7 linked regions of the Homo sapiens genome follow. The protein of the gene in region 1 purifies or fractionates together with the protein of each later gene. This does not show direct contact. Each region holds a gene or a part of one and is shown in the gene's direction. Other genes may lie near its edges. The genes, in order: LILRA5, CTBS, JAG2, POGLUT3, CNTNAP3, GUSB and ITGA7.

The links.
Region 2: the proteins of LILRA5 (region 1) and CTBS purify together in Homo sapiens (affinity purification with mass spectrometry; one large-scale study listed by BioGRID and IntAct). This does not show direct contact.
Region 3: the proteins of LILRA5 (region 1) and JAG2 purify together in Homo sapiens (affinity purification with mass spectrometry; one large-scale study listed by BioGRID and IntAct). This does not show direct contact.
Region 4: the proteins of LILRA5 (region 1) and POGLUT3 purify together in Homo sapiens (affinity purification with mass spectrometry; one large-scale study listed by BioGRID and IntAct). This does not show direct contact.
Region 5: the proteins of LILRA5 (region 1) and CNTNAP3 purify together in Homo sapiens (affinity purification with mass spectrometry; one large-scale study listed by BioGRID and IntAct). This does not show direct contact.
Region 6: the proteins of LILRA5 (region 1) and GUSB purify together in Homo sapiens (affinity purification with mass spectrometry; one large-scale study listed by BioGRID and IntAct). This does not show direct contact.
Region 7: the proteins of LILRA5 (region 1) and ITGA7 purify together in Homo sapiens (affinity purification with mass spectrometry; one large-scale study listed by BioGRID and IntAct). This does not show direct contact.

Annotation. Positions count from the first base shown.
Region 1 is NC_000019.10:54,306,570-54,310,166, reverse strand, and holds the end of LILRA5 (leukocyte immunoglobulin-like receptor subfamily A member 5 isoform 1 precursor), read left to right. Parts: intron 1-2,418; coding exon 2,419-2,469; intron 2,470-2,617; coding exon 2,618-2,754; 3' UTR 2,755-3,097; downstream 3,098-3,597. UniProt on the Homo sapiens protein: May play a role in triggering innate immune responses. Does not seem to play a role for any class I MHC antigen recognition.
Region 2 is NC_000001.11:84,567,941-84,571,440, reverse strand, and holds part of CTBS (di-N-acetylchitobiase precursor), read left to right. Parts: intron 1-720; coding exon 721-859; intron 860-1,301; coding exon 1,302-1,510; intron 1,511-3,500. UniProt on the Homo sapiens protein: Involved in the degradation of asparagine-linked glycoproteins. Hydrolyze of N-acetyl-beta-D-glucosamine (1-4)N-acetylglucosamine chitobiose core from the reducing end of the bond, it requires prior cleavage by glycosylasparaginase.
Region 3 is NC_000014.9:105,155,277-105,158,776, reverse strand, and holds part of JAG2 (protein jagged-2 isoform a precursor), read left to right. Parts: intron 1-1,013; coding exon 1,014-1,071; intron 1,072-2,787; coding exon 2,788-3,039; intron 3,040-3,154; coding exon 3,155-3,215; intron 3,216-3,500. UniProt on the Homo sapiens protein: Putative Notch ligand involved in the mediation of Notch signaling. Involved in limb development.
Region 4 is NC_000011.10:108,488,385-108,491,884, reverse strand, and holds part of POGLUT3 (protein O-glucosyltransferase 3 isoform 1 precursor), read left to right. Parts: exon of another isoform or gene 1-683; coding exon of another isoform or gene 684-717; coding exon 718-915; intron 916-3,500. UniProt on the Homo sapiens protein: Protein glucosyltransferase that catalyzes the transfer of glucose from UDP-glucose to a serine residue within the consensus sequence peptide C-X-N-T-X-G-S-F-X-C. Can also catalyze the transfer of xylose from UDP-xylose but less efficiently.
Region 5 is NC_000009.12:39,173,168-39,176,667, reverse strand, and holds part of CNTNAP3 (contactin-associated protein-like 3 isoform 1 precursor), read left to right. Parts: intron 1-575; coding exon 576-719; intron 720-3,500.
Region 6 is NC_000007.14:65,975,714-65,979,213, reverse strand, and holds part of GUSB (beta-glucuronidase isoform 1 precursor), read left to right. Parts: intron 1-3,011; coding exon 3,012-3,199; intron 3,200-3,500. UniProt on the Homo sapiens protein: Plays an important role in the degradation of dermatan and keratan sulfates.
Region 7 is NC_000012.12:55,690,905-55,694,404, reverse strand, and holds part of ITGA7 (integrin alpha-7 isoform 2 precursor), read left to right. Parts: intron 1-74; coding exon 75-149; intron 150-281; coding exon 282-384; intron 385-1,087; coding exon 1,088-1,264; intron 1,265-1,429; coding exon 1,430-1,561; intron 1,562-3,500. UniProt on the Homo sapiens protein: Integrin alpha-7/beta-1 is the primary laminin receptor on skeletal myoblasts and adult myofibers.

The DNA of each region.
Region 1 (3,597 bases):
CAGCTCTCACTTCTCATTTCCAAGAGCCCCTGAGGATGGAGCCCCTCACCCACACCTGCGGGGTCCCTGAGCCCACTCAGGACAGGGGAGGAGGCTGCTCAGGCCTCGGTGGGATCTGACGGTGATGAGGCTGGAGTCCACGCCAGACCTGCTCCTTTAGAGAGAAGCGCCCCAGCTGTGGGTACCACTCACACCGCCCCTCCTGTGCTCACCTGGAGGCCTCTGTGCTCAGGGCACCCCTGAGACAAAGGAGGGGCCGCGCACCTGCTCCCTGGAGGAAGTTAGGAACTTATTCACAGCACGTCTTGTCTGCTGTTCATTGCTGCTCTGCATTTTCTGGGCATACTTGTTTATTTTTTCTCTCTTCTTCTGAATCTTTTAAAACAATATTTGAATATTTAAATTTGTCTCTTTAAGATATATGGATTTATGATTTAAAAACAAGTAATTCCACTCCCATTGTCCTGGGGGCATAATTCAATATTTACATTTGCTGTATAAAATTAGTTGTTAATAGCAAGTATTTCTATTATTAATATATAAAATTGAAGTTTATTAATGAAGTTAATAAGTGTTTTCAAGTTCCGTTCATAAGAATGTGTACATTTAGTCTAATTTAAAAAATTCTTCAACTACTTTATTCTTAAGTGAAGTATTTGATTCATGTATATTTCTTTTGTTTGTTTGTTTGTTTTTGTTTTTGAGATGGAGTCTTGCTCTGTCGCCCAGCCTGGAGTGCAGTGGCGCGATCTCGGCTCACTGCAAGCTCCGCCTCCTGGGTTCACGCCATTGTCCTGCCTCAGCCTCCCGAGTAGCTGGGACTACAGGCACCCACCACCATGCCGGGCTAATTTTTTTGTATTTTTAGTAGAGATGGGGTTTCACTGTGTTAGCCAGGATGGTCTCGATCTCCTGACCTCGTGATCCACCCACCTAGGCCTCCCAAAGTGCTGGGATTACAGGCGTGAGCCACCATGCCCAGCCTGATTCATTTATATTTCTAAGTAAGATATACACATGAGAAAGCTTTTAGTTTGAGTATATTCATTTAATTTCATTTTAGCTTGCTATAACATTTTTCCCTTTCAATTATCTTTCAACTGATCTCCCCAAATTTACTGATAAAATTTATATTAACTATAAGAAAATTGAAATTTTATTTTTTATTTCTAAACCGCATATCAATTTTTGTCACTTCAAGTATTAATATGCATGTAACTGCATCTTAAATAAATATCTAAAGTTTTACATATATACATATTTATGTATGGTTATATAAGTTACATCTGAATATAAGTGTAGGTATATCTGCATATATTTTTTATACGTATATCTACATGCTTAATGTATTTGACATGGAGGGCTTTTACATGTTTGTTATTGGTCTTCTCACCTAGACTCACACTTTATAAAAGCAGAAATTTTTGTTTGTTTGTTTGAGATGGAGTCTCTTGCCCTGTTGCCCAAGCTGGAGTGCAATGGCATGACCTGGGCTCACTGCAACCTCTGCCTCCCAGGTTCAAGTGATTCTCCTGTCTCAGCCTCCCAAGTAGCTGGGATTACAGGCAGGTGCCACCATGCCCGGCTCATTTTTTTATTTTTAGTAGAGACGGGGTTTCACCATGTTGGCCAGGCTGGTCTCGAACTCCTAACCTCGTGATCTGCCCGCCTTGGCCTCCCAAAGTGCTGGGATTACAGGCATGAGCCACCACGCCTGGCCCTAAAAGCAGAAATTGTTTTATGAGCCTCTGTAACACCATATATATATATATATATATATATATATATATATATATATATATATATATATATTTATATATACATATATATACACACACACACACACACACACATTTATATACATACGTATATATATATGACTGACTATATGAATAGTTAGCTGACTAGAGACTTATTGTATGATGAAACACCAGGTGAGGTGGTTGAGGTGGCGTCAAGGGGAGGCAGCTGTTTGTGATTCTGACTTTCAGGAGCCCCTGAGGACCAACCCGTCATCCATGGAGCCTGGGTCCTCAGCTGGTGGATCCGTGAAACTCTCATCTCTGGGGGAATTGGCTTATGTGCTCCTGTGTCCCAGGCTGCACAGAGAGCACAAAGGGCTCAGTGACTTCTGGGGGCCACTTTCCTTGCAGATCCTGAGCTTTCACGGTGCAGGAAAGCTCTTTCCCAAATGACTCAGGAGCAAAGTTTAAATTCAAAGAACAAAGGAAAGCTGAAATAATTCAGTGAGGAGACTGGAGGGAACCCTGCTCCAGCAGAGGGAGGGTTTATGGAGGAACTCCATAAAAGTCATGTTGAGAGGCACAGGGAACTAGGAGAATGCAGAGCTCAGGGGAGAGGCTGGGCTCAGATTGCTTCAAGAACTTCTCCTTCCCCTTCCCCTGTTTTGATTTTCAGGAGCAGCTGATAACCTCAGTCCGTCACAAAACAAGTCTGACTCTGGGACTGGTGAGTGAGGAGATGCTCTCAGTTATGGAACTGGCACAGAGGGTCAGGTCCTGTCAAGATGATATGGGTGCCCTGGGGAGACATCCAGGGGTCCTGGGTGATACTGATCTGCCCTGACCTCTGTGACCTCTTTGTCCACCATCCCCAGCCTCACACCTTCAGGATTACGCAGTAGAGAATCTCATCCGCATGGGCATGGCCGGCTTGATCCTGGTGGTCCTTGGGATTCTGATATTTCAGGATTGGCACAGCCAGAGAAGCCCCCAAGCTGCAGCTGGAAGGTGAACAGAAGAGAGAACAATGCACCATTGAATGCTGGAGCCTTGGAAGCGAATCTGATGGTCCTAGGAGGTTCGGGAAGACCATCTGAGGCCTATGCCATCTGGACTGTCTGCTGGCAATTTCTTTTTTTCTTTCTTTTCTTTTCTTTCTTTTTTTTTTTTTTTTTTTTTTTTGAGATGGAGTCTTGCTCTGTCACCAGGCTGGAATGCAGTGGCGCAATCTGGGCTCACTGCAACCTCCGCCTCTCGGGTTCAAGTGATTCTCCTGCCTCAGCCTCTGGCAATTTCTAGAGGGAGGAATGGGTGTTTGAGTGCAGAGACACTGGTCTGGGGTGATCCATGGAGGACCATTAAAATGTGACACCTTTCCTTTCTATTAATGTTGACTTCCCTTGGTTGGATTCCCTTCTCTTCCCAGCCCGAGACATGAGGCTACATCCCACATGGCAGGCAGCGTTGGGTCCACATCTCTGCACACCTGCATGCTCTGGTCCTTGGCGTGTCACACAGTCCACTTCAATTCTCATTATCACACTCCCTGTGTGCTTTACTGAGCCTCCATCTCTTCAGTTCAGAGTTCCACACCTGAACCAGTAACTAAATCCATGGGAGAAGATCAGATGCCCTCCAGGAAAAGATAAATCCAAAATGGCGTCCTAACCTCTTGTCTGTAGCCTTCAAGCCCCATTCGCTCTTTTTTTTTTTTTGAGACGGAGTCTCGCTTTGTCACCCAGGCTGGAGTGTAGTGGCACTATGTCGGCTCACTGCAACCTCCACCTCCCGAGTTCAAGCAATTCTTCTTCCTCAGCCTCCCAAGTAGCTGGGACTACAGGCGCATGCCACCATG
Region 2 (3,500 bases), on another chromosome or scaffold:
AAACAGTAAATGTATTTATGGCTCCATCTGCAGTAGCCAGAAACTTGAGTATTATCAGACTTCTCTCCTTTGATTACTCATTCGATTAGTCACAAAGTCCTGTCAATTTTGCCTCCTTAGGATCTTCCAGATCTGTTCACTTAACGCCACTGCTCCACAATTTTAGTTGAGGTCACCATCATCTCTTACTTGGATTCCTCCAACAGTTTCTGTATTCTGCCTCCAGTTTTGGTGTCTCTTTAATCCTTTTCCCACTGCAGCTGAAAATATTTTTCTAAAATGCATACCTTCCCCTTTTAAAAATGCTTTTATTCTCTCCCTTTACCTCAGGATAAACAAGGTAGTACTAACTTCTCAACAGAGCTTATGAGGCCTTTCATGATTTAATCCATGCCTACTACTCTCTGGTCCTTCACTAATGCTCTCTCCCCAAATTCTAGACGTCGGCCATACTAAATATTTAGTTACGCAACCACCATGTTGTCTCTGCCTCCAGGCCTTGGCACTTGCCACTCTTCCTTCCTGGCCCATCCTTCCCCTCTTTCCCAGCCTGGCTAATTACCCCTGCCACCAATTATCTTGGGACCCCTATGTCTTATGCACTTGTACTCTCACTGCCACCATAGTGTTTGGTGTATGGTGATGTTTGATGAACGGTATTTTGGACGGTCAGCATAATATTCTTGGTTTAAATGATGGTGCTCATCTTTGTTCTGGCAGGTCTTTGTGTTTGATGTTGGACAGAAAACTTGGAAATCTTATGATTGGTCACAGATTACAACTGTGGCAACATTTGGAAAATATGACTCAGAACTTATGTGCTACGCTCATTCAAAAGGAGCCAGAGTAGTACTTAAAGGTATGTTGTTTCCAGATCTATGTGTGCAGCAATTGGGAAATTTATCTGTATCACTTGCTATAGTCCCGACTTTCCAAAAAAGTCCTTTTATGTTTATCTGTTTTTGTTAGGATCCTATAATTAATCTTAGATACTGTGTAATTCATTTCACAAACACAGATCTTTTTAAAAGAATTAAACCACTGTATGGTTTTGAGCAAAATGTTAACTGCCAAATTAGCCTTATGACCTTTACTTAATCATAGTCCACAATTTCTGTTTCTAACTTCAGAACAATTTTACTAATGATTTATAATGGTTATTTTGGAGATTCATGAGTAATGGCTTTCTGTTACTTTGGTATATTCTTTCTCCATTGGAAAACTTCAGTTAAGGGCTTAGTCTTCCAAAATAATGAAATGTTTTTGCATACATGTTCAAAAGATATATACTTCTTCCACAGGAGATGTATCCTTAAAGGATATCATTGATCCTGCTTTCAGAGCATCCTGGATAGCTCAAAAACTTAATTTGGCCAAAACACAATATATGGATGGAATTAATATAGATATAGAGCAAGAAGTTAATTGTTTATCACCTGAATATGATGCATTAACTGCTTTAGTCAAAGAAACTACAGACTCTTTCCATCGTGAAATTGAGGGATCACAGGTAAAAACTCATTTATTTTTTGGAAACCTCATATTTTCCATATCAGAATATACTCATGAGGGTATAACTAATATAATCTTTGTTTTATAGTAATGCAATGGGAAAGAGTTTCAGCACTTATTTCCTAAAAAATTTTTCTGGAGCCTTTGGTGTTCTTATTTAAGGAATTTTAAAGCCCTAAATCTATTCTCTATTCACAGCAAAATACAACACTGGGATTACCCCCACTACTTGCCTTGTAGCACAGTTAGAAGTGTTAGGCAATGGGAGAACAAAAATCAAGGGGGGCGCCTAACCAGCTTTTACCAATGCAGGACAGAAACAACCCAGGAGTAGAGGTAGTTCTGGGGAAGTGTATCACTTGCTCTACAGTCTCTGAATTACTTGCACCCAAGGCCCAGTAAAGCTTAAAGGACTAACTACACAGAACTGTGACAGCTATAACAATAGGCAGTGTGCTTCCCCACTGCCATAATGAACATGATTAGAGCAGAAGGTAACAACACAAGCTATCTTGCCAGACAACAGATGGGTAACAGAGGATAATGTGAACCCAGATCAGTGATCCTCAAACTTGGCCACATATCAAGATAACCATAGGTCTTAAGGAAAAGTAAGCATGTGTTTACTTTTCCACACACATGCACACTGTGAACTCACTCCCAGAAATGATTTTTCAAAAGGTTTTGGGTAATCCCAGAGCCCCCAATTTTAAAAAAGTTTCATTGGTGATTATAGTTAAGAAGTAATAGGCTAGACAATGAGTTTTTTTGAAGACGGGGTGCAGCTCCTTGATATCTAACAGAATGCTTAAAAATGTATTCCAGTATAGAGCATTATGAGTATTATAAACCAGTGATTCCTAAACCTGTCTCAGAATTACCTGAGAGTGCTTGTTTAAAATATCCTGAGTGTATTAGTTTGTTCTCACATTGCTATAAAGAAATACCTGAGACTGGGTAATTTATAAAGACAATAGGTTTAATTGGCTCACGGTTCTGCAGGCTATACAGGAAGCATAATGCTGACATCTGCTTGGCTTTTGGGAGGCCTCAGGAAAACTTACAGTCATGGTGGAAGGCAAAGCGGGATCAGCACTTCAAACAGCCAGAGAAGGAGAAAGAGAGAGGGTGGGGAGGTGCCACACACTTTTAAACAATCAGATCTTGTGAGAACTCTATCACGAGAACAGCACTGGAGGGGGAAATCTGCCCCTGTAATCCAGTTACCTCCTACCAGGCCCTACCTCCAACATTGGGGATTACGATTCAACATGAGATTTGGGCGGGGACACAGATCCAAACCATATCACTGAGATTGACTCAGTAGGTCTGGGATAGAGCTTAGAGAACTGTATTTTTGCCAAGTGTCCTAGGTGATTCTGGTAGAGTTGGTCATCATGAATTTGAAAATTACAGGTAAAATAATTTGAGAATTACTGGTAAAATAATAAGCAATATGACGACTGACATTTCTGTGGTTTTATGCAAATAGGGAAGATCTGTCAGTATGGAATTCAACTTGTCAGGAGAGTACAATGTAGATTAAGAACAGCAAATACCTGGCATACAGGCCACAATACCCCTTCTCCTCCTCACACATTTTGGCCTCAGAAACTTTTCCTTCATTCTCTAGATAGTGATTACTAATAGGTTAGAATTGATGTGTGGAATATATGGGAAACAACCTATTTGACAATCCTGATTAAGCTGTAGTGAAAGAGCAGAGAGGAAGAGATTGAGCAAAATCCTTGCAGTAGGAATATCTCTTTCTGTCTCTTGAGAGGTGAGGAGAACAATTTGGGCTACATGTCAAGTTCATGTTAGGTGAATTAGTGGGAGGGACAGTTGCAAAGGTAGGCCAGATTGTGGAAGATCCAGAATGTCAGGCTGAGGACTGTGCATTTTATTCTGTGTGTAATGGGTTATGTGTGTAAAATAGTGTTTGGGGAAACTATTCTGTAGGAGTATGTAAAACTAGATGAGAAAGG
Region 3 (3,500 bases), on another chromosome or scaffold:
GCCCCAGCCCCCTCCTCTGGGCCCCACCTGGAAGGAGCCAGGGCTGGGCTCAGGGGTCAAGAGCACACCAGGGGTAGACTGGGGGGTTCCTGGGCAGTGAGGGCTGAGAGGCTGTGGAATGTGGGTACCCAGTGCTGGGTAGTACAGGGCATGTCCCGGGGGTCCCACCTGTCTGAGCATGTCTGTGAGTGACGGTCTCCGTGGGCTGCACTAGGCGGAGCAGGGGGCCAGCCCTGTGGTCTCTTTGCTTGGCTGACAGCATCGCCTGTCGCCATGGCTGGGGTACAAGGGCCAGGTGGCCCGGGGGCAGAGGGGGCATAGTGGCCATGGTCTGAGGCTGTGCTGGGCAGTCCCAGGACCTCTTGGCCTCAGTTTCCCCAACTGTACCGCAAGGGCCCCTCCTGCCACCTGTTCTGTGTGAGGGTGGAGGTAGGTGTGGGTTTGCCTGTGTGCTGTATGCCTGCAGGACCTGAGCTCCGGCCTGTTGGGGCCTCTGGCTGGGCGCCCTGTACTTGGCCACCCCGTGCACTTGGTGGAGGCCGCCAGCGTGGTGATGGGGCCCCACGTTCTCCCCCGTGGTCACCCCCAGTGAGGCACCAAGGGGCGTTCCACAGGAAACGCTCGGGTCCCGGCTGCCCATGGGGCCCCTGTCTGTGGCCACTCCAGCCAGGCTGCCCTTTGCCCACCTCTCCCCCCGGTCGCTCTTCCTGTGCTCCGTGCTGACTTGAGCCAGCTCAGGGCAGGCTGGGCCTCTGGCACCCCAACGGTAGGGAGCCCAGGCCCCTGAGCCCGCGTGGCCTGGAGGGGCAGTCTCCCTCCCTTGAGCTGGGTCATTTTTGGGTCTGCAGAGGATGTGGCCTGAGGATGAGGAGGGTGGTGGGTCCCTGGCTGGGGAGGAAGGGCCAGAGCCTGGCAGACCCAGGGGCAGCGTCTGAGCCCTGGGCCTTGTCCCACCCTGAACGAGGCAGGCAGGTGTGGCCTCAGGTACCTGACCCGCCTCCCCATGTCTGCAGCGCTCCTTTACCCTCATCGTGGAGGCCTGGGACTGGGACAACGATACCACCCCGAATGGTGAGTGAGCCCTGGGCCAGGTGGCAGCTCCTCTCAGCTTCAGCGTGCCTGTGGCAGGGCCCAGCTCCTCTGTCTGCTTGGGACAAAGCCTTGCTTTACCCTGAGGATCATGTGTGCTGTTTCCCTTTTTGCTTTGGCTGCCAGGAAGCTCTGCCACGTTTGGGACTTGCAGAGCTGTGCATGCACTCTCTTCCCCAGTCCTGGCTTTGCCTATGTTGTTCTCCTCTTGGGTGTGCTCTTTTGGGGCCCATGGCAGTGACTTAGTGGAGGGGACACCCTTGAGTGTGTCTCTGGCTTTGTGGCCCCCTCTGCTTGTCTGTACTGGAGCATGGAGCCTTGGTGGCCCTCTCCCTGAGGCAGGGGCTCTGCAGGGCCCTGCAGGGGTAACGGGATGACTTCCATGGGTGAATGCAGAAGCACCCACAGGCCAAGGGAGCAGCTCGTGTGAAGGTCTGGGCAGGAGCGGGCTGGCTGTGCAGGGGGAGCAGCCGGGGCTGGGCTCAGATCATGGAGGCTGGCAAGCCACTGAGAGGACACGGGCTCCGCCTGGCAAGCTGTGGCTGCCTTATGGAGGGTGGGCTGTGGGGCCAGGACACAGACCGAGGAGGAGCTGCCACGTGAATCTGGGCGTGTCAGGGTGACTTGGACCAGGGGCAGTCTGGGGGTGAGAGGGGCTCTCAGAAGTGGAGGCATGGGGTTGGCCAATGGGTTGGAGGAGGGAGAGCGGGGCCAGGGCATCCTGGCTGCCAGCAGAGTGGAGGGGCTGTTTTCAGGGCAGGGACGGCGGTGGGGGTGCCCAGGTGGGGAGCAGCAGTTGTGGGGACCCCAGCGGCTCAGGGCAGGGGTGTTTCCTGAGGGGGTGGCAGAGAGACAGGTGGGCTGAGTCCCAAGCAAGGTCGTCAGGGCTCTTGACAACGTGAGCCTGGAGAGGCTGGGGCGGCCGGGACGCCCCTTGGGGAGTGGGCCAGCACAGTGTCCTCCCAGGCCTTGGCCCGAGGCGGGAGAGGTGGGGTCTGGAGGACCCGTTCACCTTTTATTGTGCAAAACGTCGAGCCTGTGCCTAAGCGCAGGGACCGGCATCACGGACTTTGCATACCAGCGCCAGCAGCTGTGGTGCCCCTGGCCCCTGGTCTCCTGGTGGCTTACTTAAAGTGAGGCTTAGACAGCGGGTCACGGGACCTATGCCTGTCTTGGGGGCCTGAGGGGAGGCTTGTCTTAAGGTGGGGACGGTAGTGGTGTTTGGCACTTCTGGGAGCAAGTCACAGCGCAGGAGAGGGGAGGGCAACTGAGCACCATGTCCGTGCTGTCGAGGGCTGGACACGGCGCAGGTGGGTGCAGGTGTTGGAGCAGGGCTGCAGGTGGGTGGGCACAGGTGTGGGACGTGAGACTCACGCCCTGGCAGCAGCCGTGCCTTCTCTGTGGAGCCTGTGGTCTCAGCAGCCCTCCCTGCAGGGCCCCTAGCCCCTAGCCGGGCCCCCCGACCCTCTGCGTTTAGGGTGGGAGCGGGGCGCAGGCTTGGTGGCGGGAGGGAGAGGCCTCTCGGGGCCCTGAGCTTTCTGTAGCAGCCTGGCCGGGGGCCCTGCCCTCCGTGTGCTGCTGCCTGCTGTGCCCCGGCCTTGCAGCAGCCGCAGGCTTCTGCCCCGTCCCCGTTGTTCCTGGAGGACCCCTGGCCGGGCTGGTTTCTCTGGCCTGTGCTGACTCTGCCGCCTCCCCAAGAGGAGCTGCTGATCGAGCGAGTGTCGCATGCCGGCATGATCAACCCGGAGGACCGCTGGAAGAGCCTGCACTTCAGCGGCCACGTGGCGCACCTGGAGCTGCAGATCCGCGTGCGCTGCGACGAGAACTACTACAGCGCCACTTGCAACAAGTTCTGCCGGCCCCGCAACGACTTTTTCGGCCACTACACCTGCGACCAGTACGGCAACAAGGCCTGCATGGACGGCTGGATGGGCAAGGAGTGCAAGGAAGGTGAGGGGGCCGCTGGGCTGCGTGGAGGGCAGGGAGGGCCTCGGGCAGGGCCCCGGGCACAGGCCTTGCGGCCAGGCTGGCTGCAGCTGTGCCTCTCGCTCCTCTCTGTTCGCAGCTGTGTGTAAACAAGGGTGTAATTTGCTCCACGGGGGATGCACCGTGCCTGGGGAGTGCAGGTGAGTGTGCCGCCGGCCCGTCTTTGCCCTCCCAACCTTTGCCCTCACGTCCTCACTGGCACACACAGCCTTGCTGTCAGGAGTCGCCCGGAGCTGGCTGGAGGTTGGGCACACAGCTGTGAGAGCCGGGCCCTGAGCTCGGGAGGCTCCTTAGTGCAGTAGGTGCGTGTCTGAGCATGGGATGTGTCTGATGGCGGCAGCCATGTGAGGACAGTGAGGAGAGACTGGGGAGGCTGGCTGGACAGTCACGTCACCGAGGGGCAGAGACCCGGAGGCTGCAAGCCA
Region 4 (3,500 bases), on another chromosome or scaffold:
TGTCATGCTTAGAGTCCATGGATTTTTAACTATTTGGGCTTTAATCCTACCCAAAGGAGGAAAGACCAAATAAGCAAAAAGTTTATTTTTTATTTGCTTTTAAAAAATGATTTGCTTTTGTTCATGCAGTAAATCTTTATTGAATGACTAATGATTCAAATGTTGAGTCTGATCCGTGGTTTGAATACATGAACCAGACCAAGCTCTGTGGCTCAAGCCTGTAATCCCAACACTTTGGGAGGCTGAGGCAGTGGGGATCGCTTGAAGTCAGGAGTTTGAGATCAGCCTGGGCAACACAGCAAGACCCCCTCCAACCCATCCCGCCCCCCACCATCTCTACAAAAAATTTCAAAAATTAGCTGGGCATGGTGGCACACTCCTATAGTCCCAGCTACTCATGGGGCTGATGCAGGTTGAGGCAGGAGGTTCATGAGCCCAGGAGGTTGGAGCTGTAATGAGCTAGGATTCTGCCTCTGCACTCCTAGCTGGATGACAGAGCAAGACCCTGTCTCAAAAAAGAAAAAAAAAAAAAAAAGAATGCATGAACCAGACATGACAGTTCCTGGCCTCAAAGATCTTCCAAAGGAAATGATTTTTTTTTAACCACCAATGCTGCAGGAAAAAGCAACATATTTAAGTTATCCAATAACACCTATCCAATAATTGTAAATCATTATCATGACATGGTAGAGTTGTTTATATTTCTTTTCCTTTTAGGTGAAACACCATTCAAAGTCGTAGTCAAATCTCTTTCACCTAAAGAGTTGGTCCGGATACATGTCCCTAAACCTTTGGACAGGAATGATGGAACATTTTTGATGAGATATAGGATGTATGAAACTGTCGATGAAGGCCTGAAGATAGAGGTCCTTTATGGTGATGAACATGTGGCTCAGTCTCCCTATATTTTGAAAGGTAAGTGATTATTATATACTCCAGAGTCAGCCTTGTGTGTAGGTCCCATGCCTTTCAGAATGGCCTAAACCTGATGACCTCAAAGTCATGTGCAGTAAAGTAAACATTGTATACATACCTCCTGGAGCTCAATTTAAATTTTAAGGGAAAGAAAATTAAGTAAAGAGATTTAAATGATAAGAAAAAAATCTTGTGTATTTACATCCATGTAGTTACTATTTGCGAAACTCTTCATTCCTTTGTGTAGATCCATATTTCCATCTAGTAACATTTGCCTTCTGCTTAAAGGATTTTTATTAATATTTATTTTACTGTGAGAATGCTGGTGATGAATTCTTCCAGCTTTTGAATGTCTGAAAAAACTTTATTTTGCCTTTTGTTTGTTTGATTTGTTTTTTGTTTACTTTGAGACAGGGTCTTGCTCTATGGCCCAGGCTGGAGTACAGTGGCACAGTCAAAGCTCACTGCAGGCTGGGCGTGGTGGCTCACATCTGTAATCCCAACAATTTGGGAGGCTGAGGCGAGTGGATGGCTTGAGCTTAGGCATTCAAGACCAGCCTGGGCAACATGGTGAAACCCCGTCTCTACTAAAAATACAAAAATTAGCCAGGCATGGTGGCGGCGCATGCCTGAAGTCCCAGCTACTCGGGAGGCTGAGGCTGGAGAATCGCTTGAACCCGGGAGGTGGAGGTTGCAGTGAGCCAAGATCACATCACTGCACTCCAGCCTGGGTGACAGAGCGAGATTCCATCTCAAAAAAAAGCTCACTGCAACCTTAAACTGCTGGGCTAGGCCATGTGCAGTGGCTCACACCTATAATCCCAGCACTTTGGGAGGCCAAGGCCAGAGGATCACTTGAGCCCAGGAATTCAAGACCACGCTGAGCAACATGGCAAAAACCCATCTCTACAAAAAATTAGCTGGGTGTGGCGGCACATACCTGTAGTCCCAGCTACTCAGGGGGCTGAGGTAAGAGGATCACCTGAGCTCAGGGAGATCGAGGCTGCGGTAAGCTGTGATCGTGCCACTGCACTCTGGCCTGGGGGACAGAGTGAGACCCCCTGTCTCAAAACGAAATAAAACAGAAACAAAAACTGCTAGTTTAAAGCAAACCTCCCGCCTCAGCCTCTCAAGTAGCTAGGACTGCAGGCACATACCACCATGCCCAGCTAATTAAAAAATATTTTTTTGTTTCTACAAAACATTTTTTTGTTTCTACAGGGTCTTTTTATGTTACCTAGGCTAATCTCAAACTCCTGCACTCAAGTGATCCCCCTGCCTCGGCTCCCCAAAGTGCTGGGATTACAGGCATGAGCCACCATGCCCGGCCTAGTTTGCCTTTGTTTTTAAAAGACATTGTCTCTAGTTATAGTTATAGGTTGATGGGTTTTTTTTCTTTTGATACTTTAAAGATGTGGTTCCACTGTCTTCTCACTTGCATTGCTTCTAACAATAAATCTAGCATTTTCCTTATCTTTGTTCATCTGTGTTGCTTTTAAGGTTTTCTCTTTATCAGTTCTTTTGAGAAGTTTGATTATTATGTGCCTTGGTGCAGTTTCCTTAATGTTTCCTGTGTTTTGGATTTGTGGAACTTCTTGGAATTTAAACCATCCAAGTGATTTAAATTTCATCAAATTTAGAAAAATTATGGCCATTATTGCTTCAAATATGTTTTCTGTTCCATTCCACCTTACCTTCAAGGATACTAATTACCCATATATTGGGCTTGAAACTATCCTGTGGTTCATCGATACCCTTTTCATTTTTTAAATTCTTTTTTCTCTTTGTTTCATTTCGTATAGTTTCTATTACTGTCTCTAAGTTCTCTTTTCTTCTGCAATGTACGATCTGTTGTCAATCCTATACAGTGTAGTTTTCACCTCTTGATGCTTTTTCATCTTCTTGAGCTCTTTTCTGGGGTGCAGTTAAATCACTGGGAAATAGTTTAATCCTTCCAAGTTTTGCTTTTACAGTTTGTTAGGTGGGACTAGAGCCATGTGTAGTCTAGGGCTAATTATTCCCCGCTACTGAGGTAATACCCTTCTGCATACTTTACCCAAGCCCTGTGAATTAGGAGGCTTTCCAATCTGGCTGGTACCCACCGATAAGTACTGTTCTCTCTGGTCATTTTGGATGGGTTCTTCCCCTGTCTTCCCCAAGAACATATGAACACTCAGGTGGCAAATATCTTAGATGTCCATTTCTCAGCCTGAAATCTGTTTTCATCCTTTGTCATTATCATTCTAAATATTTAAATGTTATACCTAAATAATTAAACTGTATTATTTTTAGAATCAATACAGGGGAAGAACCCATCCAAAATGCACTGATCATATGCTCTGCTCAATATGTGAAGAGGACCTTCTATAGATCTCTAACGTTCTCTCTGTGCAGTGCTTCCTTTTTAGATACTCTGTCCTACAAAGTCTAGAGCTGCCTTGGTCTCCCTGGACTGCCAGCTCTGTCTCCTCAACTCAGTGAGGCTGCCTGGCTTTGCCTACAGTCCCCCTCCCTGTACTACAACCTCAAAGCTCCCTTAAGCAGTAGGCTGTAGGAATTGTAGGGCTTACCTTATTTGTTCCCCA
Region 5 (3,500 bases), on another chromosome or scaffold:
TGGCTTTGGCATATAATATTAAACTGAAGATCCTAGTCCTATACCGGATTATTCAGTTTTATTACTTTAATTTAACCATGTAATAGCAAAAGATAATATCTAATGCAGAGGTTGGCAAACTATGGGCATCAGGCCAAGTTTGGACATTTTTTAATTAAAAAAATACAAAGCCTGTTTTTGTTCAAAAGAGAAGGTTTTATTGGAACATGTTCTCTTTCTTTATGTATTGTCCGTGGCCACATTGGTACTTCGTGTCAGAGTTGAGTGCTGCAAAAGAGATCATATGACCCACAAAGGGTAAATTTACTACATGGCTGAAAATTTCAATGTGGCAGAAAATGTGTGTTGACTTCTTCCTTTTAAGTTTGTTCAAAACTGTGTGGTGCCAGAAATAAAGGTATTAACAGCTGTCATTATGATAGAACACTTCATTTGGAATAAGCAAGCATGCAAATATAAGATAATGGGAATGGATTTGTGACAGTTAGTACTAGACCTATTAATTATAAATGCTTTAAACACGTACCATCAGAAAATCACTAAACAATGTTATTTATGTCATTTTTCTTTCTAAGATCAGCTTTGGGGGAATTCCGACACCCGGAAGATCGCGGGCATTCAGACGTAAAAGCTTTCATGGGTGTTTAGAAAATCTTTATTATAATGGAGTGGATGTTACCGAATTAGCCAAGAAACACAAACCACAGATCCTCATGATGGTAAGGAAGCCTAATGGGAAGGAAAGAAAAAAGGACATTTTATTTTTTGCATTTAAAAATTATTCATGTGAAGTCTCCATTTCATCTAATATTTTAAGAATCAGTTCTTACTTTAACAGCTGCCCATGTAATATAGTAATTTAGTTTTATTTATTTATTTATTTTTAAGACAGAGTCTCCCTCTTGTCTCCCAGGTTGGAGTGCAGCGGCGCAATCTCAGCTCACTGCAGCTTACGCCTCCCAGGTTCAAGCAATTCTCCTGCCTCAGCCTCCTGAGTAGCTGGGATTACAGGCGCCCGCCACCATGCCCAGCTAATTTTTGTACTTTTAGTAGAGACGGGGTTTCGCCATGTTGGCCAGGCTAGTCTCGAATTCCTGACCTCAGGTGATCTGCCTGCCTCGGCCTCCCAAAGTGCTGGGATTACAGGTGTGAGCCACTGGGCCTGGGCCAATTTTTTTTTTTTTTTTTTTGAGACGGAGTCTCACTCTGTCGCCCAGACTGGAGTGCAGTGAAGCTCTGCCTCCTGGGTTCACGCCATTCTCCCGCCTCAGCCTCCCGAGTACCTGGGACTACAGGTTCCCACCACCATGCCCGGCTAATTTTTTATATTTTTGGTAGAGACGGGGTTTCACCATGTTAGCCAGGATGGTCTCGATCTCCCAACCTCGTGATCTGCCCACCTCGGCCTCCCAAAGTGCTAGGACCACAGGCGCACTTTTTTTGTTTTTGTTTTTGTTTTTGTTTTGAGATGCAGTCTTGCTCTGTTGCCCAGGCTGGAGTGCAGCGGTACAGTCTTGGCTCACTGCAACCTCCGCCTCCTGGGTTCAAGCCATTCTCCTGCCTCAGCCTTCCGAGTAGCTGGGACTACAGGTGTGTGCCACCACACCCGGCTAATTTTTTTTAGTACAGACAGGGTTTTGCCACATTGGCCAGGCTGGTCTCAAACTCCTGACCTCAGACGATACACTTGCCTCGGCCTCCCAAAATGCTAGGATTACAGGCACGAGCCACCTTGACCCAGCCTAATATAGTAATTTTTATTATGCATAAAAAGTTATAAAGTAAATATGCCTCATGGGACATCGTTGTTTCATTTTTATATGAAATAAAATAACTTTCTATTTTTACATGGAAATCAGAATTCATATGTCTCACGTGTTTTTGGTGTTGTTATCCACAGGAGACCAATCATTTTGCAATGGCAATCCCTAATGATCTATTCCCTAATCAACTGGAAATACTTCCAAATCAGTTAATAAACTTCTTTCAATGTTTAAAGTTTGAAATATCCAAGTTGGGGTTAAAGGGAAAGCTCATGTTTAGTTGTCAGTGTATCTCAGCAGCACATCATGGGAATATTTATTTGTATTGTTGGGAACATGTTTTCTTTCCTGTTATGTGCTGGAGGAGTTGGCTCATGGGTTGCAGGACCAAAACCTGAAAATATCTCTGACTGTGTGTCACCAGACCACACAATGAATACATCACTTAGGTTAGCATGAGAAAAAGGGAAAAACAGCTGTGAAGCCCATGAACTTTCCAAGAAGGTAAAGGAGAAAAAAAAAAAAAAAGATGGGTTTGAAGTCTAAGTTTTACTATGAACAGCACCCTGCTGAGATCATAAAAATGAAAAATACCATCAAGATACATGAAAAAGGAAACACCAAAGGGAAGAGTGATAACAAGGCTCCACAGAGTGCAGTTTCCTTTGACAAGATGAAAAAGAAATGAAAAGAGGAAGGAGATAAATGGAACAGCCCTCTACCTAAAGTTTCTGTCCATGGAGAAACTGACATTTAAGTGCTGCTCAACAGGAAAAAGAAAAAAGACCTGGTTATTGAAGTTGGCTTTGTTGGAGATGCGTTACTCAGATACAGATACAAAGATGGGTTTGGCCAATGGGCATCCGTGTCAAGAAGCCTGACCTAACACGTTCTGAATATTAAGCTACCTTTTATCTGCCAGTCCTTGGTGTTCAGAAGAATCCCTCCTCCTCACCCTAACTTCTATGGGGCTATTTACAAAGACACTGTCATTGAAGTGAGGAAGAGTGAGTTGGGCCTTATGACACAAAGAGACAAGACTATTTGAGGACAACAGACACAGGTTTTCATATACATTCCATGTTATTCTGAATTACTGATGGGTTCACTGATGGAATTATTGAGTATAGCCAATAAGGAGAACCACAATTAAGCTGGTATCTCTGGGTTCTGGATATCATCCTCAAGAAAACTATTTACTAATTACATTGAATGAGGTTATTAAAATGTGTAAGTTTCACACAAAAACAAAAAGACAATTCATTCCAAATTGTGCATATGGATATATAATGTTAATTATGGGAATTCCATTTTAAGAATTACTACAATTCTATGTGTTCTGTATAAAAACAGGAAAATAGTTGTTCCAATATATAAAAGGAAAACATTTAAAAATGTATTTTGTTGGGAAAATCAGTTGCCAGAATTCATTCAGTCAACTAACAAGCACTCCTCTGTGGCAAGAAGCCCTGCCTCTCTGTTGTAGCAGGCAGCTACCCACCTAAATGATGAGGTCAAGAAATATACAGCTGATAAAAAGATAAAAAATATGTAATAGTCCAGTGATTACATGTGTACTATGGATCAGTGCCAATTACTTGTAAGCTTTTGGTATTTAGTTTGTTACAGCAAATGTTTTCTTTTTTAAATTTTCTTCTGCAAATGTTTTCTTGTCATGAAAACTGTTTCCCATTTGGCAGAATTACAAAAACAGTCAAGAAGAAATGTTCTGATTGA
Region 6 (3,500 bases), on another chromosome or scaffold:
TTGACCTCGCTAGGAGAAGAGGGGTCTGGCCTAACGTCACACAGCTCGGGGTGGCAATCCTGTCCCTTCTCTATGGTGCTACTCTCACTCCATCTCCCCTTGCTACACATCGTGCTCAAGGAACAGGCAGCTTCGGTGGGGGGGGCGCCGGGCATGGTGGCTTATGCCTGTCATCCAGCACTTTGCAAGGAGGCCCTGGTATAAGGATCACTTGAGGCCAGTAGTTCAAGAGCAGCCTGGGCAACATAGTGAGGCCATCACCACAAAAAATTAAAAAATTAGCCAGGGATGGTGATGTGTGCCGGTAGTCCCAGCTGCTGAGGCAGGAGAATCACTTGAGCCTGGGATGTCAAGGGTGCAGTGAGCTATGACCACACCACTGCACTCTGGTCTGGGCAACAGACGCAGACCCTGTCTTTCTTTTTTTCTTCTTTTTTTTTTTTGAGCTGGAGTCTCGCTCTGTCGCCAGGCTGGAGTGCGATGGCGTGATCTTGGCTCACTGCAACCTCTGCCTCCCGGGTTCAAGCGATTCTCCTGCCTCAGCCTCCCGAGTAACTGGGATTATAGGCACCCGCCACCACGCCCGGCTAATTTTTCTATTTTTTTTTAGTAGAGACAGGGTTTCACTCTATTGGCCTGACTGGTCTTGAACTCCTAACCTCAGGTGATCCACCCTCCTCGGCCTGCCAAAATGCAAGGGTTACAGGCGTGAGCCACTGTGCCCAGCTGGGATACCCTGTTTTTTTTGTTTTTGTTTTTTGTTTTTGAGATGGAGTCTTGCTCTGTTGTCCAGGCTGGAGTGCTGTGGCGTGTTCTTGGCTCACTGCAACCTCCGCCTCCCGGGTTCAAACAATTCTCTTGCCTCAGCCTCCTGAGCAGCTGGGATTACAGGCGTGTGCCACCACGTCCAGCTAATTTTTGTATTTTTAGTAGAGATGGGGTTTCACCATGTTGGCCAGGCTGGTTCAACTCCTGACTTCGGGATCCACCCGCCTCAGTCTCCCAAAATGCTGGGATTACAGGAATGAGCCACAGCGCTCGGTCTGTATTTAAGAAAAATTTTTGTTTTAAGTTTTTTTTCTTTTTAAAAATATATCTTTTTCAGGGCGGGCGCGGTGGCTCATGCCTGTAATCCCAGCACTTTGGGAGGCCAAGGTGGGGGGATCACGAGGTCAGGAGATCGCGACCATCCTGACTAACATGGTGAAACTCCGTCTCTACTAAAAATGCAAAAAATTAGCCGGGCATGGTGGCAGGGGCCTGTAGTCCCAGCGACTCGGGAGGCTGAGGCAGGAGAATGGCGTGAACCTGGGAGGCAGAGCTTGCAGTGAGCTGAGATTGCATCACTGCACTCCAGCCTAGGGGACAGAGCGAGACTCCATGTCAAAAAATAAAAATAAAAAAATATATATATATCTTTTTCTTTTTCTGAGATGAGGCTTGCACTGTGGCCCAGGCTGGAGTGCAGTGGTGAGATTATTGACAGCCGTTGTGGGGCCGCGGTTCTAAGTTTAAAAGAATTTAGGCTGGGTGTGGTGGCTAATGCCTGTCATCCCAGCACTTTGGGAGTCCAAGGTGGATGGATCGCTTTAGCTGCAAAGTTTGAGACCAGCCTGGGCAACATACTGAGACCCTATCTAAGAAAAAAATAAATAAATAAAATAAAATAAATGAATAAAAAAGAATTTAAAAAAGAATCCCACAGCAAAGACAATGCACCATAGAGCAATTTATTGCCAAGGAAAGGTATTTTGGAAGTTAAGTTTAGAACAGCCTGGGTGCACTGGCTCATGCCTGTAATCCCAGCACTTTTGGAGGCCGAGATGGGTGGATCACTTGAGCTCAGAAGTTCAAACCAGCTTAGCCAACATTAGCTGGACATTGTGGTGTGAGCCTGCAATCCCGGCTACTCAGGAGGTTGAGATGGGAGAATTGTTTGAACCCGGGAGGTGGAGGTTGCAGTCAGCTGAGATTGCAACACTGCACTCCAGCCTAGGTGACAGAGTGACACCCCCATCTCAAAAAAAATAGTGAAGTGCAAAATGCACAGTTCACCCTGAGACACAGAATTCAGGACAGGCTGCTCGTAAGGATGAGACAGCACCGATTATTACTGGGGAAACTCCCTTTCTGGGAGTCTTCCGTGATGAATTCCTAAGGAGCTGGGAAGAGGTGTTACTGTAAGCACGTTCTGGGCCGTCCTCTGGTTGCACATGCGTAGTAGCTGTACATGCTTGTTCACACGTCACGTGTCTCAGTGCCGTGGTTGGCATGTCTGAGGGACACGGTCACTTCCTTGACTACCTATCCTGCCTCAAGATCATAGCTCACTGCAGCCCCGAACTCCTGGCTCAAGCAATCCTCCCACTTCAGCCTCCCAAGTAGCTGGGGCTGCCGGGGCTGCAAGCACGCACCACCACGACCGGCTGATTGTTTGTATTTTTAGGGAAGAAGTGGTTTCCCTATGTTACCCAGGCTGGTCTTGAACTCCTGGTCTCAAGCGATCCTCCCACCCCAGCCTCCTCAAGTGTTGGGATTACAGGTGTGACCACTGCACCTGGCCAAAATCTTTTTTTAAATTAAAAAAAGCACCGGGTGCGGTGGCTCACACCTGTAATCCCAGCACTTTGGGAGGCCAAGGCGGGTGGATCACCTGAGGTCAGGGGTTCAAGACCAGCCTGGCCAATATGACAAAACCCATCTCTACTAAAAATATAAAAATTCGCCAAGCATGGTGGTGCACGTCTATAATCCCAGGTACTTGGGAGGCTGAGACAGGAGAATCACCTGAACCCCAGAGGTGGAGGTTGCAGTGAGCCGAGATCATGCCACTGCACTCCAGCCTGGGGGACAGAGTGAGACTCCGTCTCAAAAAAAAAAAATAAGAAATTAAATTTAAAAAAAGCAACAGAAACAAATGGCTGCCTGGCAGCGGTGGCTGCAGGGCGCTCCTGTTTGTGTGACTCAGGTCGTGTCCCTCCCTCAGCCCTGGTCTCTCTTGTTTCTTGCAGGGCTGGTGAATTACCAGATCTCTGTCAAGGGCAGTAACCTGTTCAAGTTGGAAGTGCGTCTTTTGGATGCAGAAAACAAAGTCGTGGCGAATGGGACTGGGACCCAGGGCCAACTTAAGGTGCCAGGTGTCAGCCTCTGGTGGCCGTACCTGATGCACGAACGCCCTGCCTATCTGTATTCATTGGAGGTAATGGTGGTTTGGGACATGCCTAAGGGAGGTCTTTTGCCCCCATGTGGTGACCCTGGCTTCAGCAGGAGCCCAAGACAGGTGGATGGGCAGGCATGGTCCTCTGAGCTTTCTGATGTTTCTCACCCTTGGTGGGAGGCCCATTTTCTTTTTTTTTTTTTTTTTTGAGATGGTCTCACTCTGTCACCCAGGCTGGAGTGCAATGGCCTGATCACAGCTCACTGCAGCCTTGAACTCTCAGCCTGCAGCAGTCCTCCTGCCTTGGCCTCCTGAGTAGCTGGGACTACAGGCACATGCCACC
Region 7 (3,500 bases), on another chromosome or scaffold:
TCATATTGACCTCATCTGACCCCTTGGGAGGTGCCTGTGCCTGATGCCCATACTTGCCCCTGCCCACTCACCAGGATCAGTGAGCAGGAGCTGCATCCAGTCTCTGCACGAGCCCGTGTCTTCATTGAGCTGCCACTGTCCATTGCAGGGTGAGCCTGGCCCAAGGGGGCACCTCCATTGGAGGGAGGGGGCATTGACATTTCCAAACCTTGGCCAGGGCCCTGCCTTCATTGAGCCAGGCCCCAGACCTTCTCACCCCTGTTCTGACCTCTCCACGCCAGAATGGCCATTCCCCAGCAACTCTTCTTCTCTGGTGTGGTGAGGGGCGAGAGAGCCATGCAGTCTGAGCGGGATGTGGGCAGCAAGGTCAAGTATGAGGTCACGGTAAGTGTCAGGGATGAGGCCCCTCCATGGTCACCCTCCCTCCTTGGCACAGAGGAGAGGCTGAGCTGTGTCCCCAGGGCTGGGGCTCTTCTACCATGTGGCAGCATGCAGTTTGAGGCCTCTGTCCTGCATATGGACCTTGGCTGTGGGAAGGTGTTCCTGCTGGGGCCTCATTTGACCATTTCCTGGTCATTCTGTCTGGCTGTCTCACCTGCTGGTGTGGTAGGCCATGAGAGTCCAGGGAAGCTTCTCTGCTGTGGGCCTCAGCTGGGGGATGGGAACATGGGGCGGGGGGTTAATGTCTCTCCCTAGAACTCTGCCTTTGCTTGGCTGGGGCCTCTCCTCACACCTTCCAGGGACACTTCCAGGGTTTCCCGGATTTGGTGGGTGGAGAGAATGGTGCCTGGTGGGGTCTAGGATCCTGAGTATTTGTTGAAATTGTGTTTCCTGAGGGCCTTCTCTTCAGCCCTTGTTCCTTCCATCTCTGTGGATTTAGGATCCACTTGAAAGCTGAGTTCCTTGGCTGGGCACGGTGGCTCATGCCTGTAATCACAGCACTACAGGAGGCCAAGGTGGCAGGATCACTTGAGCCCAGGAGTTAGAGACAAGCCTGGGCAACATAGATCCTGTCTCTACAAAAAATTAAAAAAAAAAAAAAAAGAAAAACTGAGGTCTCTCCCCTCATACTCTCTTTTTCCCACAGGTTTCCAACCAAGGCCAGTCGCTCAGAACCCTGGGCTCTGCCTTCCTCAACATCATGTGGCCTCATGAGATTGCCAATGGGAAGTGGTTGCTGTACCCAATGCAGGTTGAGCTGGAGGGCGGGCAGGGGCCTGGGCAGAAAGGGCTTTGCTCTCCCAGGCCCAACATCCTCCACCTGGTGAGGCTTAGGTGGGGGTGGGGGTTAGATGTGGGGACAGATGTTATGGGGAGTAAGGGTAGTGAGTGCAGTGATGGGGCAGGAGGAAGGCGGTGGGGAGGAGATTCGATCTTAGCACTGCTGTGATTGGAGGGACACTCACTAAGACCCCCCTTCCGTGTCCAGGATGTGGACAGTAGGGATAGGAGGCGGCGGGAGCTGGAGCCACCTGAGCAGCAGGAGCCTGGTGAGCGGCAGGAGCCCAGCATGTCCTGGTGGCCAGTGTCCTCTGCTGAGAAGAAGAAAAACATCACCCTGGTGAGGGCAGGCCAGACTCGGTGCAGCCAGAGCTCCGGGGTGCTGCGTGTCCAGGAAGGGTACCTGTTGAGACACATGATGGTCTGGGTGCAAGTTGACCAGATGTTCCCATCACAATTCATAGGAGGGGGTGCCCGGGAGGCAGCTACTGACACTGCAGACCCCCTTCCTGCTCAGCCCCTGCAATTGCTCACTCTAGAACAGGTCACTCCACCTGAAGCCAGTTAGTTAGCCAAGCAATTGATTCACATTACGTTTATATAAAGCATTACATTTTATACGTGATGGGATGGGGTTAGCCCATCCTCACACTTTGAGGTCTGTTTGTCGTTCTTTTGAACTCTTATAAGATAAAAAAGTCAATTTGTGTAAGGACACTTGCTTGATTTTTACAGTATTAAAAATGTTAAGTTCTTTTTTGTTGTTGTTGAGACGGAGTCTTGCTCTGTCACCAAGGCTAGAGTGCAGTGGCACGATCTCAGCTCACTGCAACCTCTGCCTCTGGTTCAAGCGATTCTCCTTCCTCAGCCTCCTAAGTAGCTGGGACTACAGGTGCATGCCACCACACCCGGCTGATTTTTGTATTTTTAGTAGAGACGGGGTTTCACCATGTTGGCCAGGCTGGCTGGTCTCGAACTCCTAACCTCGAGCGATCTGTCTGCCTCGGCCTCCCAAAGTGCTGGGATTATAGGCCTGAGCCACGCGCTCAGCAAAAACACTAAATTCTAAAAGTTCTAATAATTAAGACAACCGTATATTATATGTGATTTATTAAGTTTACCCCTTTTGAGCAGTTTTGCTTTCCCCTTTTCTGCTTGTTTTGCAGAGTTGTGTTGTTTAGGTGAAGGTATTGAGCAGATCCGCACATGCTCTGTGCCCCTCCCTGCTAGGATGGGGCTCGCAGTGAGAATGTGGTGGGGACTTAGATTAGGAGGTCTTTGGCTTGATTGTAAGGAGGTGGAGGTAAACCCCAGGTAGAGCCAAGGAGACCCTTTGCAGGGGAATGTCAGCAGCTGCTGCAGTCCCTGCTTTGGGCCCTCAGCTCCCCTGGGAGCATGGCATGAGGCAAACTGAAGAACGTCAGGGGATGTAGGAACCCATGTCGTGGCTGTTGCTCTATTACATGGATAATCCTCCCTTCTCCACGTGACCGATTTCCTCTGAGAGGCCTCCCTTTTAAATGGGAACTTTGAAATAGATTCTTTTTGTTTTCATGTTAAAATGTATTTATTTATTTAAATGACAAAAATTATATTTATCATGTATAATACAATGTTTTGAAATATGTATATACTGTGGAATGGCTATATTGAGCTAATTAACATATGCATCACCTCACATACTTATTTTTGTGGTAAGAACACTTAAAATCTATTCTCTTAGTGATTCTCAGGAATACAATATGTTGTTATTAACTACAGTCCCCATGTTGTGCATTAGATCTCTTAAATAGATATCTCTTCCTTCTGTCTAACTGAAACTTTGTATCTTTTGACCACCATCTCCTCCATCTCCCCAGCCACACCCCGCCTCCACTCCAGCCCTAGGTAACAACTATTCTACTCTCTACTTCTATGAGTTCAACTTTCAGATTCCACATATAAGTGAGATAATGCAGTATTTATCTTTCTGAATCTGGCTTACTTTGCTTAACATAATGTCTAAAGTAGATTCTTTTTTATTTTATTTTATTTTTTTATTTTTTATTTTTTAATTTTATTATTATTATACTTTAAGTTTTAGGGTACATGTGCACAATGTGCAGGTTAGTTACATATGTATACATGTGCCATGCTGGTGTGCTGCACCCATTAACTCGTCATTTAGCATTAGGTATATCTCCTAAAGCTATCCCTCCCCACTGCCCCCACCCCACAACAGTCCCCAGAGTGTGATGTTCCCCTTCCTGTGTCCATGTGTTCTCATTGTTCAATTCCCA